Regions from separate parts of the Homo sapiens genome. Here region 2 is linked to region 1. Evidence: fine-mapped expression QTL. Tissue or cell type: whole blood. Region 1 holds a variant in brackets; the other region holds the start of a gene. All regions are shown on one strand. Distances are from middle to middle.

Region 1 (5,145 bases):
TTGGAATCTGCAGAGTGCCCCTTATGAGACCCCAAGCATTCATGTAAGCGTCCATGCCCCCACTGATGATATCTGGGCAGAGAGGCAATAAAATCAGAGTTGTTGATCAAGATTTGGAGGCTGCGGTTGGAGGCCGGACATCCTGCCTGCAGGGCAGGCTTCAGCTTGGAAGCTTGCGGCCCAGAACAGTCCCCGTGGGCACACCCAGGCAGAGGGTTTTGCTAGGTGTCTGACCCAGCTTCCAAAGCCAGGGTCTAATAACAACAGCGCCACCAACAACAGGAAACATTTGTGACGCACATGCTGCCAAAGCACTGTTCTAAGCACTCCTTACAGTTTAATCCTCCCAACAATAAGAATGAGGTAGGTACCAGTGCTAACCCCATTTTACATAGGGGGAAACTTAGGCACAGAGAGGAGACCCCATGAAAGGCAATGGGGACACCTCCAGGAACCTCCCACCAAAAAAGATCACTGCAGAGTAAGGACAAATCGAACATCAGATTTCCTCAAGGGTGGGCACTTTCTCGATGCATTTCTGGTGCCCTCTTTTGGATTTCAGCCTCAGTGGCCACAACACCACGGGTGTCAGTGACAGGAGCAAACCAAATGCACTGGGGACTCAGCTGGGAGGAGCCGCCCTGGCATTCCCACCATGTCCGTGAAATGGGGGGAATCGTGGTATGTACTTGAGAATCAACAGAGGCTGGGCGAGGAAGACTTGGGATACTTGTGAGCCCATTCTAACATCAGCAATTGCTAATATCATGTTTATTGCCTTGAATAAAAGAGATGAAGAAATAAAGGAAAAAGAGGAAAGGAAGGGGGAAAGGAATGAAGAAAGGAGAGACAAGAAATAAAGCATTTTAGGCCGGGCCTGGGGGCTCACACCTGTAATCTCAGTACTTGGGAAGACTGAGGTGGGCATATCACTTGAGGTCAGGAGTTCAAGACCAGCCTGGCCAACATGGCAAAACCCCATCTCTACTAAAAATACAAAAACTAGGCCGGGCACGGTGTCTCACGCCTATAATCCCAGCACTTTGGGAGGCCGAGGCAGGCGGATCACGAGGTCAGGAGATCGAGACCATCCTGGCTAACACAATGAAACTCCACCTCTACTGAAAAAAAAATACGAAAAAAGTTAGCCGGGCGTGGTGGCATGCACCTGTAGTCCCAGCTCCTCGGGAGGCTGAGGCAGGAGAATAGCGTGAACCCGGGAAGAGGAGCTTGCAGTGAGCCAAGATCACACCACTGCACTCCAGCCTGGGCAACAGAGCAAGACTCTGTCTCAAAAAAAAAAATGCAAAAACTAGCTGGGCATCGTAATGCACACCTGTAATCCCAGCTACTGGGGAGGCTGAGACAGGAGAATCACTTGAACCCAGGAGGTGGAGGTTGCAGTGAGCCAAGGTCGCACCACTGCACTCCAGCCTGGGCAACACAGCAAGACTCCATCTCAAAAGAAAAAAAAAAGAAAAGTATTTTAATATCAAAGAAGAAGGAAGAGGGCCAGAAAGAAGAGATAGGGCTGAAAAAAGAAGGCAGGAAACAAGCAGAATGTTTCCAAAGAGTCCCATGAACTATTCAGAAAACAGTTGTTTTGTTTTGTTTTGTTTTGAGACGGAGTCTTGCTCTGTCACCCAGGCAGGAGTGCAGTGGCATGATCTCGGCTCACTGCAACCCCACCTCCTGGGTTCAAGTGATTCTTCTGCCTCAGCCTCCTGAGTAGCTGGGATTATAGGTACACGCCACCATGCCCAGCTAATTTTTGTATTTTTAGTAGAGACGGGGTTTCAACATATTGGCCAGGCTGGTCTCAAACTCCTGACCTCATGATCCACTCACTTTGGCCTCCCAAAGTGCTGGGATTACCGCGCCCGGCCAAGAATTTTGTCTTTAAAGGAGTTGACAGTGGGGTGTGGACCGTGTAGCCGAGACAGCTTGCAGGGTGAGTTAAGAGTCCGCCTGGATTCCATCCCCAGCCCTGCCACACTTTGTCCATGAAGCAAGTGACTGTCCCTTCCCAAGCCTCAGTTTCTGCACTGCAGAATGGGGACCATTGTCCGTGGCATTTCCACAGGTTGGCGTGAGAACCTGTTGAGCCCACGCAGCAAGGTGTGCCTGTTGTCTATGGTAAGGGGCAGACGGCATTGCCTACTTTCCACTCGTAAGATGTCATTGCATGTACCCGGTTCTCACTTGGCAGATGAATCAAAGGGCTATAAATAGCCATGTCTTGGTTTCTCATAAACGCATTAAATATGACTTGGCATCTTGCCCAGGCTTCCTGTCAGGGCAGTGGACGAGGATTGTTTTGCAGAGGTCTGATGAGTGTCAAGGTTATAGTCACGTGCAGGTGCGTGAGGCAGGACTCGAAGTGAGCCCCAGCTGCCCTGGGGAATGAGGGGGTCTTCCCTTCCACCCCCATGCCCTCCTTGGCATAGGTTTACACCAGCCACTGTGGGCCCTGGCAAGCCCCGCCTTGTGGCTCAGGCTGGGCCACTGGCCTCTTTGCTGGCTTTGCCTGGACTCACCCCACTGGTCCAGCTTGCATTTGGTCAGTCTATTCACAGGTGAATTCTGGGAAGACTGGACC[C/T]GGCTATGGGAAGAGGGGAGAGGAGGGAAAGGTGGACACATGACTCGTGAGCTTGCTGGGCTGTCCTGGGCCCCTCCCTCCATCTTACTTCATGAAGTTCTCTGAGGCTGACCTCACCCCTGACTCAGGGATGAGGCCCTGGGGGTGGCAGATGTGGACTCTGGAACCCCGCTGCCTAGGTTCAAGTCCCAGCTGCTCCATAGAGGACCTCAGGCTTGTCTATGCTCTCAGTACCTCAATTTCCCCCCTCTGTGAAATGAAGGTAATGCCTCATAGAATCTACCTCATGGGGCTGCTGGAAGGATTCAATGGATGTTGATCATGATCATGATTTCCTGATACTCAGAATAATGCCAGGCACAGATTATCTGCTCTGAAAAACGTTTTGCTATTATTATTTTTCTGCTAGTGATAGTTAAGAGCAAGGACTCTAGACCCAGCCCAGTTGGGTTCAACGCTCAGCTCCACCACTTGCAACCAATGTAACCTTAAACCTGGATATAATCTCTCTGTGTCAGAGGCATGTGAACCAGAACAACTCCATCTTGAATGGGGCTGGGTAAAATGAGGCTGCATTCCCAGATGGTTAGGCATTCTAACTCACAGGATGAGATTGGAGGTCAGCACAAGATACAGGTCATAATGACCTTGCTGATAAAACAGTTTGCAGTAAAGAAGCTGGCCAAAACCCACCAAAACCAGAGTGACCTCTGTTCGTCCTCAATATGACACTCCCATCAGCACCATGACAGTTTACAAATACCATGGCAACATCAGGAAGTTACCCTATATGGTCTAAAAAGGGGAGACATGAATAACCCACCCCTTGTTTAGCGTAACATCAAGAAATAACCATAAAAATGGGCAGCCAGATGCCCTCAGGGCTGCTCTGTCTATTGAGTAGCCATTCTTTATTCGTTTACTTTTTTAATAAACTTGCCTTCATTTTACTCTACGGAATTGCCCTGAATTCTTTCTTGTGCGAGATCCAAGAACCCTCTCTTGGGGTCTGGATCCGGACCCCTTTCCTGTAATGTCTGTGCCTCAGTTCCTTCATCTGTAAAATGGGAGTGATGATTATCTGTACCTTATAGGGTGTAATAGGGATAAAATAAGCAAACACCCGCCAAGTACTCAGACGAGAGCCTGGCACACAGTAAATACTCCAATGTTGTTGCTACCATTGATGTTCTTGTTACAGGTGGTTGTGCTCACCCCGCATCAAGGTTGCTAAGCTGCTGTGATGGAATCCTGGAGCTGCTGAAGGACACCTCATCTCTTTGTGGGAAGCATCTGCTTGAGGATTAAGGGAATGCAGAAAAAAAGTGGAGTAGAGAGATGGAGGAAGATGACTTTCGAGGACATTGTGTGAGCACCTGGATCTAACTGTGCCTGAAGCAAAACTCAAACCCTGGACTCTCAATGTATTGGCTCTCAGTTCCAAGACCCAATAAATTCCTTCTTAGCTTAGAATGCTTTGCTCAGATGTCTGTTACTTCCAGCCAAATGTGTTTTAATACAGAAAGCTCTTGGGGGCTCAAATAACAGAAAGGGAAGCTATATGAGAAGCTGAGGGAAGCTAAGGAGAGGAACAGAAGTGATACAGCAGGGTGTGGTGGCTCACGCCTGTAATCCCAGGTCTTTGAGAGGCTGAGGTGGTGGACCACTTGAGGTCAGGAGTTCGAGACCAGCCTGGCTAACATGGTGAAACCCCATCTCTACTAAAAAAAAAAAAAAATTAGTCAGACGTGGTGGCATGCATGTGTAATCCCGGCTACTCAGGAGGCTTAGTCAGGAGAATCACTTGAACCTGGAAGGTGGAAATTGCAGTGAGCCAAGATCATGCCACTGTACTTCAGTCTGGGCGACAGAGCAAGACTCCATTTCAGAAAAAAAAAAAAAAAAAAAGAAGTGATACAGCTTAAGAGAGTAGGCCATGTGGAGGCCACATGCATCATGGGTTAGAATCCAGGCTGTTACTGAGAGCTTGTGGTAGGATGTTGCAGAATGGACACACTCTTTCATGCCTCCTTGTGTACATTCTTACAAGGTGACTTTGCCACTCTTCCCATCAAGGGATGGAGTCTGTGTCTCCACCCCTTGAATCTGGGCTGACCTTGTAATTTCTTTTGGCCAATCAAACATGGTGAAAGTAATGCTGTGTTAGTTTCAAGCCTAGACTTCAAGAAACCTTGCCGCTTCCATGTACTCTCTTAGTTGATCTTGCCATGACCTTGTGAACATGACCGGGCTAGCCTGCTGGAGGATGAGAGGCTGGAGGCTCCCCAGCGAACTGCCCATCCAGCCCCCTGAGGCAGAGCCACCTAGCTACACAGTGCTGGCCACAGATACATGAGTGAGCCCAACCTACATTACCAACCTGCAGAATGGACAGATAAATCCATCAATGTTGTTTTAAGCCATTTTAGATGATTTCTTAGGCAACAGTAGAGAACTGCTTTGTCTGGTTTAACTCAACCTTGCCCAAGGGCCTTCCAAAACCCTGACCTCCAGGTCACATGACAAGGTGAGGCCTCTACATCCCA
Region 2 (5,145 bases), 34 kb after region 1:
ATGAAATAAAATAAAGTGGCTCAAAGACTCAATTTAAGAGTTAAAACTATAAAACTCTTAGAAGAAAATATTGTTGAAAATCTTCATCACATTGGACTTGGCAACAACTGCATAAATAGGATACCAAAAGTACAAGGAAGAAAAAATAGTAGGTAAATTGAACTTCATCAAATTAAGAACTTTTGTGCACCAAAGGACACTATCAAGAAAGTGAAAAAACCTGGAGAATGGAAGAAAATATTTGCAGATCATATATCTAACAAGGGATTAATATTCAAAATATATATAGAACTCCTACAACTTGACAACAAAAAAACAAACAACCCAATTCAAAAATGGGCAAAGTACTTGAATAGACACTTCTCCAAAGAAGATATACTAATGGACAATAAATTCGTGGAAATATGCTCAACATCGTTAGTCATTGGGGAAATGCAGATTACAACCACAATGAGATGCCACTTCACACTAACCAGGATGGCCATAATCAAGAAAATGGATAATAAGTTTTGGTGGGGATGTGGAGAAATTGGAATCCTCCGTGCATTGCTGGTGGGAATGTACAATAGTGCAGTCATTGGGGAAAACAGTTTGGCAGTTCCTCAAAAGGTTAAAAATAGAACTACCAAGTCACCCAGCAATTCCATTCTTAGGCATATATTCAAAAGAAATGAAAGCAGATATTTGTACACCAGTGTTCACAGCTGCACTATTTACAATAGTCAAAAGGTAGAAACAACCTAGGTCCATCCACAAATGAATGGATAAATAAAACGTAGCATATACATACAATGGTACACTAGTCCGCTGTAAAAAGAAATTTTGATCTTACTGCATGCTACATGGCTTCGACATACTACAACATGGATGGACCTTGAAAACATTATTCTTTGTGAAATAAACTAGACACAGGACAAATGTTAGACGATTCCACTTATATGAGGCACCTAGAATGGGCAATTTGGTAAGCAAAGTAGAATAGAAATTACTAGGGGCACAGGTAGCAGGGAATGGGGAGTTACTGTTTAATGGTCACAGAGTTTATGTTGGGGATGATGAAACAGTTTCGGGGATAAAGAGTGGTGATTGGTACACGACATTGTGAATATACTTAATGCCACTGAATTTTACACTTGAAGTGGTTAAAGCGATAAATATTATAGTTTGCATATTTTATCATAAAAATATTTTTTTAAACGATGAAGGGACGTGAACGGGTTGAAATTTTATAAAAAGTGGCCAGGGAAGGTGTCACTGCAATGGTGTCCTACAGGAGGAGGAAGATCATGTGGACATCTGCGGGAAGGGTGTTCTGGCAGAGGGAGTAGCACGGGCGATGGCTCTGAGGACTGTGAGAAGTATAGTTGGAAACAGCGAGGAGGCCAGGGTGTCCGAAGCTGAGTAAGCCAGAGAGAGTGGGAGGAGGTGAGATAAGAGGGGGAAGGTCAGTTTCTGCTGAGAGTGAGGAGGAGCCACAGGAGGGCTGTGAGCAGGTGGACGTGATCTGGCTTGAGTTTTAACAGGGCCAGTAGAACAAAGCACGCCTGGGTACCGAAACCAGCCACTGGCCAGTTGGCAACCTGGGGGAGTCTAACGCGAGGAAGCGCCCAGGGTTCCCCCAGGATGCGCTTTCCCTCGCCGCCACCTGGAGACAGCAGAGTCACGCCCAGCGCTGCGCAGGCTGATCGCCGCGCCGCGCCCCCGCCCTCGGTCGCAGGTGGCTCGTTCCGGGAATTCCTAAGCGGAAACCGGTCCCAAGCCCCGCGCCTTCGCTCGGCCCCTTTAAGAGCCAGAATTTCCGGAGGGCTGACCCGGGGGCTAGGGATGCCCAGGGGCCGAACCACAAGTTGGGAACGGGTGGGGGAGGTGGCGAAAACTTCCGAAGTGGAATTCCAACTTTTCCTGGCCCTGATTCCCCTTGGGCATCCCTGAGGGGGCAGAGCTTCCCTTCCGGGGACTTTAGAGGGTTCCTCAGGTCATCTAACTGGGAGACACAGGAGGCCCGAAGCGCCCCCCCTCCACCCGGTCCGGAGGAACCCCAGTGGAAGTGGAGAAGTCAGGCGCCACCAACAAGCCTCTCCCAGCCAGGACTTTGCTTAGACTCGCTCCTCCCGGCAGGGCGCACCTAGGCGGGTCCATCGCCAGCCGGGGAGAGGGGTTTGGGCAGGGAGGGAACAGGTGCGCGGCGGGACCCGCCCTATCTCAACAGGTGAATCGCTCCAAGTGGGTCTCGGTTGCATGGATCTCGGTGCGCTTGGTTTGGCCGGAGCAGATGGGGGCCGGAAGGGACCTGTGGTCCGCAGGCGCCCTCCCAGCGGGCCAGTCACTTGGTTCGGGCCCTGGGGGACGGAGCGCACCTGGGTCAGCCCACTTCCGGGGAGGGAGGCAGAGGAACCCCTCCCCGCCGCTCACCCCTAAGCCCAGCCCTCGGCTCCCACCCTTGTGTACCTGGGCCGAACCATTCACCGGAGCGCGCAGCGGGTGGAGTGTGGCTCGGAGGACCGCGGCGGGTCAAGCACCTTTCTCCCCCATATCTGAAAGCATGCCCTTTGTCCACGTCGTTTACGCTCATTAAAACTTCCAGAATGCAACAGGACGGACTTGGAGTAGGGACAAGGAACGGAAGTGGGAAGGGGAGGAGCGTGCACCCCTCCTGGCCTTGGTGCGCGCCGCGCCCCCTAAGGTACTTTGGAAGGGACGCGCGGGCCAGACGCGCCCAGACGGCCGCGATGGCGCTGTTGGCCGGCGGGCTCTCCAGAGGGCTGGGCTCCCACCCGGCCGCCGCAGGCCGGGACGCGGTCGTCTTCGTGTGGCTTCTGCTTAGCACCTGGTGCACAGGTACGGGGCACGGGGCCTCTGACGCTGCGGAACGCCGGAGGGAACTGTAGAGGGGGATGGATGGAGTTGGAGGCGGCGGGAAGCGGGAAGCGGGGGTCTCAGAGGCTGGGACCTTCCGATCCCCTGGGTCTTGGGCGATCTGTTGCGCGCGGGAGTGAGAGGAATTCCCCATTTGTGCCGGGGAGCGCTCCCCGCGCCCTTATCTGGAAGATAGCAGGAAGTGAAACTCCCTGGACGGTGAGACCCGGAGCGGCAGGGAGAATGGAACTCTTTGTGGGGAGGGAGTGGAAGACCGCCCGATCTCTGGGAAAAGAAAAGCCGGGATGGGACTTGGGCGCACCCGGGGATTTCTAAGTTTTGGAGTAACGGGGAGAGGGCACGGGAGGGCTGGATCAGACGCTTCCTAGAGGGACAGAGACGAAGGAACAATGCCTAGGCCTCGGGTGGGTGTGGGACTGGGGACTCCCCATCCCCCGCACCCCACCCACCTCCCGCGGGCTCCGGATTATACGTGCGTAAGAGTCTGGTGGGATGGATTTACGGACTTGAAACCGACTTCTGCTGGCAGGCTTTCACCTGGATGGGATATTTGGGTGGTGATGAGGTCTTTCCCGAGACACTTTTGGTTCAGTCATTTGAAATGACTTTAGAGTAGGGTGAGGTGGTGGGAGGCTGATGGAGATATTGTGGGGGCTTTAGTCCCTCCATGGCAAAGCAGTTCAGGCAAACAACTCCATGGTTTTCCCTCCAAATTCAAAAGGCCCCGGGTAACCTGGAATCCTTCGTAGTCGGTTTTGAAGTGGGGCCTTGGGCGCTGGGGGCATCAACATGGCCATCTGGGCTTGCCTGCCCAGGCCACACAGAGGCCCCTTGTTGTGGGTGAATGGCAAAGGGAAGAGGGGACTGGTGTGGTTCAGAGGCCACAGGCTGGGAAGAGGGATGGCGGGCGAGTCCAAGGAAACTGGCCGTGTCACCGTGCACCTGCCACTTCAGCCCCACGGGTCTATAAAATGGGCATGATTATCGTGGCTACCTCACTGGTCCTGGCAATTAAGGAACAATGTGTGCCAGGCACTCTGTAAACCACATACTTGCGAGTGTCAAGCTGGTGACAGGTGGCGTTCCTGTTGAAGCACCTCCCTGAGCTCACAGCAACCCTTGCTGTCTCTCCTCTTGCCCTCAGCTCCTGCCAGGGCCATCCAGGTGACCGTGTCCAACCCCTACCACGTGGTGATCCTCTTCCAGCCTGTGACCCTGCCCTGTACCTACCAGATGACCTCGACCCCCACGCAACCCATCGTCATCTGGAAGTACAAGTCTTTCTGCCGGGACCGCATCGCCGATGCCTTCTCCCCGGCCAGCGTCGACAACCAGCTCAATGCCCAGCTGGCAGCCGGGAACCCAGGCTACAACCCCTACGTTGAGTGCCAGGACAGCGTGCGCACCGTCAGGGTCGTGGCCACCAAGCAGGGCAACGCTGTGACCCTGGGAGATTACTACCAGGGCCGGAGGATTACCATCACCGGAAGTATGTTGGGCAGGGCAGGGGGATGAGGCTGGGCTTGCCCGGGTGGTGGGACTGGCGTCCTTGTGCGGGACCTGGAGTCCCCATCTGAAAGCTCTTGAGTGCCAGTGTCTGAAAGGACCATTGAAGGGAGCAATTCTTTTTTTTTTTTTTTTTGAAGATGGAGTCTTGCTCTGGACTCCAGGCTGGAGTGCAGTGGTGCGATCTCAGCTCACTGCAACCTCCACCTCCCAGGTTCAAGCAATTCTCTTGCCTCAGCCTCCCGAGTAGCTGGGACTCCAGGTGCGTGCCACCACGCCCAGTTAATTTTTGTATTTTTAGTAGAGATGGGGTTTCACCATGTTGGCCAGGCTGGTCTCAAACTCCTGACCTCAAATGATCTGCCCGCCTTGGCCTCGCAAAGTGCTGAGAGACACCATACCCAGCCTAAAGGGAGCGATTCTATTCTACTATTCTTCCTTCTGCTAATCCTTCCATTCTTTAATTTAATAACGAAGATTTTTTGAGTACCTGTCATATACCAGGTGCTGTTCTGGGCCCTGGGAATACAGCTGTTAACAAAATCATCAAACCACTTCCCTCGTGGAGCCCACATTGCAGTGAGAGAGACAAACACGACACACACTCTCAAGTCCTTGAAGATAAAGAAAACTGGGTAACGGAGAGAAGAGGCCAGGGTTTGTTCTATAATCATTAATAACACGAGCAGTAAGAAGTAAAATTTATCTAAGTAACAACTTATAAAGGGTCTACTGTGTGCTAAGCTCTCATCCAGGTTCCCA

What was found. PIP is the estimated chance that this variant, and not a neighbour inherited with it, causes the effect.
Region 2: LSR starts here. The variant in region 1 is fine-mapped to the expression of LSR in whole blood (INTERVAL, PIP above 0.99).

What each region holds. Positions count from the first base shown.
Region 1 is chr19:35,211,835-35,216,979 of GRCh38, forward strand. LOC105372379 (a long non-coding RNA gene) reads left to right here. Exons shown (of 3, transcript XR_935938.2): 3 at 3,801-4,072. Among named protein-coding and RNA genes, the nearest start is that of FAM187B, 14 kb to the right of the region's middle. RefSeq lists enhancers at 1-654, 1,903-2,102, 2,143-2,192. The variant C/T (reference allele first, on the strand shown) is at 2,600.
Region 2 is chr19:35,246,294-35,251,438 of GRCh38, forward strand. It overlaps LSR (lipolysis stimulated lipoprotein receptor), which reads left to right and starts at 2,709. Exons shown (of 10, transcript NM_205834.4): 1 at 2,709-2,838; 2 at 4,022-4,366. The coding sequence starts at 2,730. RefSeq lists enhancers at 1,293-1,462, 1,596-2,398, 2,399-3,200 and silencers at 2,313-2,392, 2,803-2,872.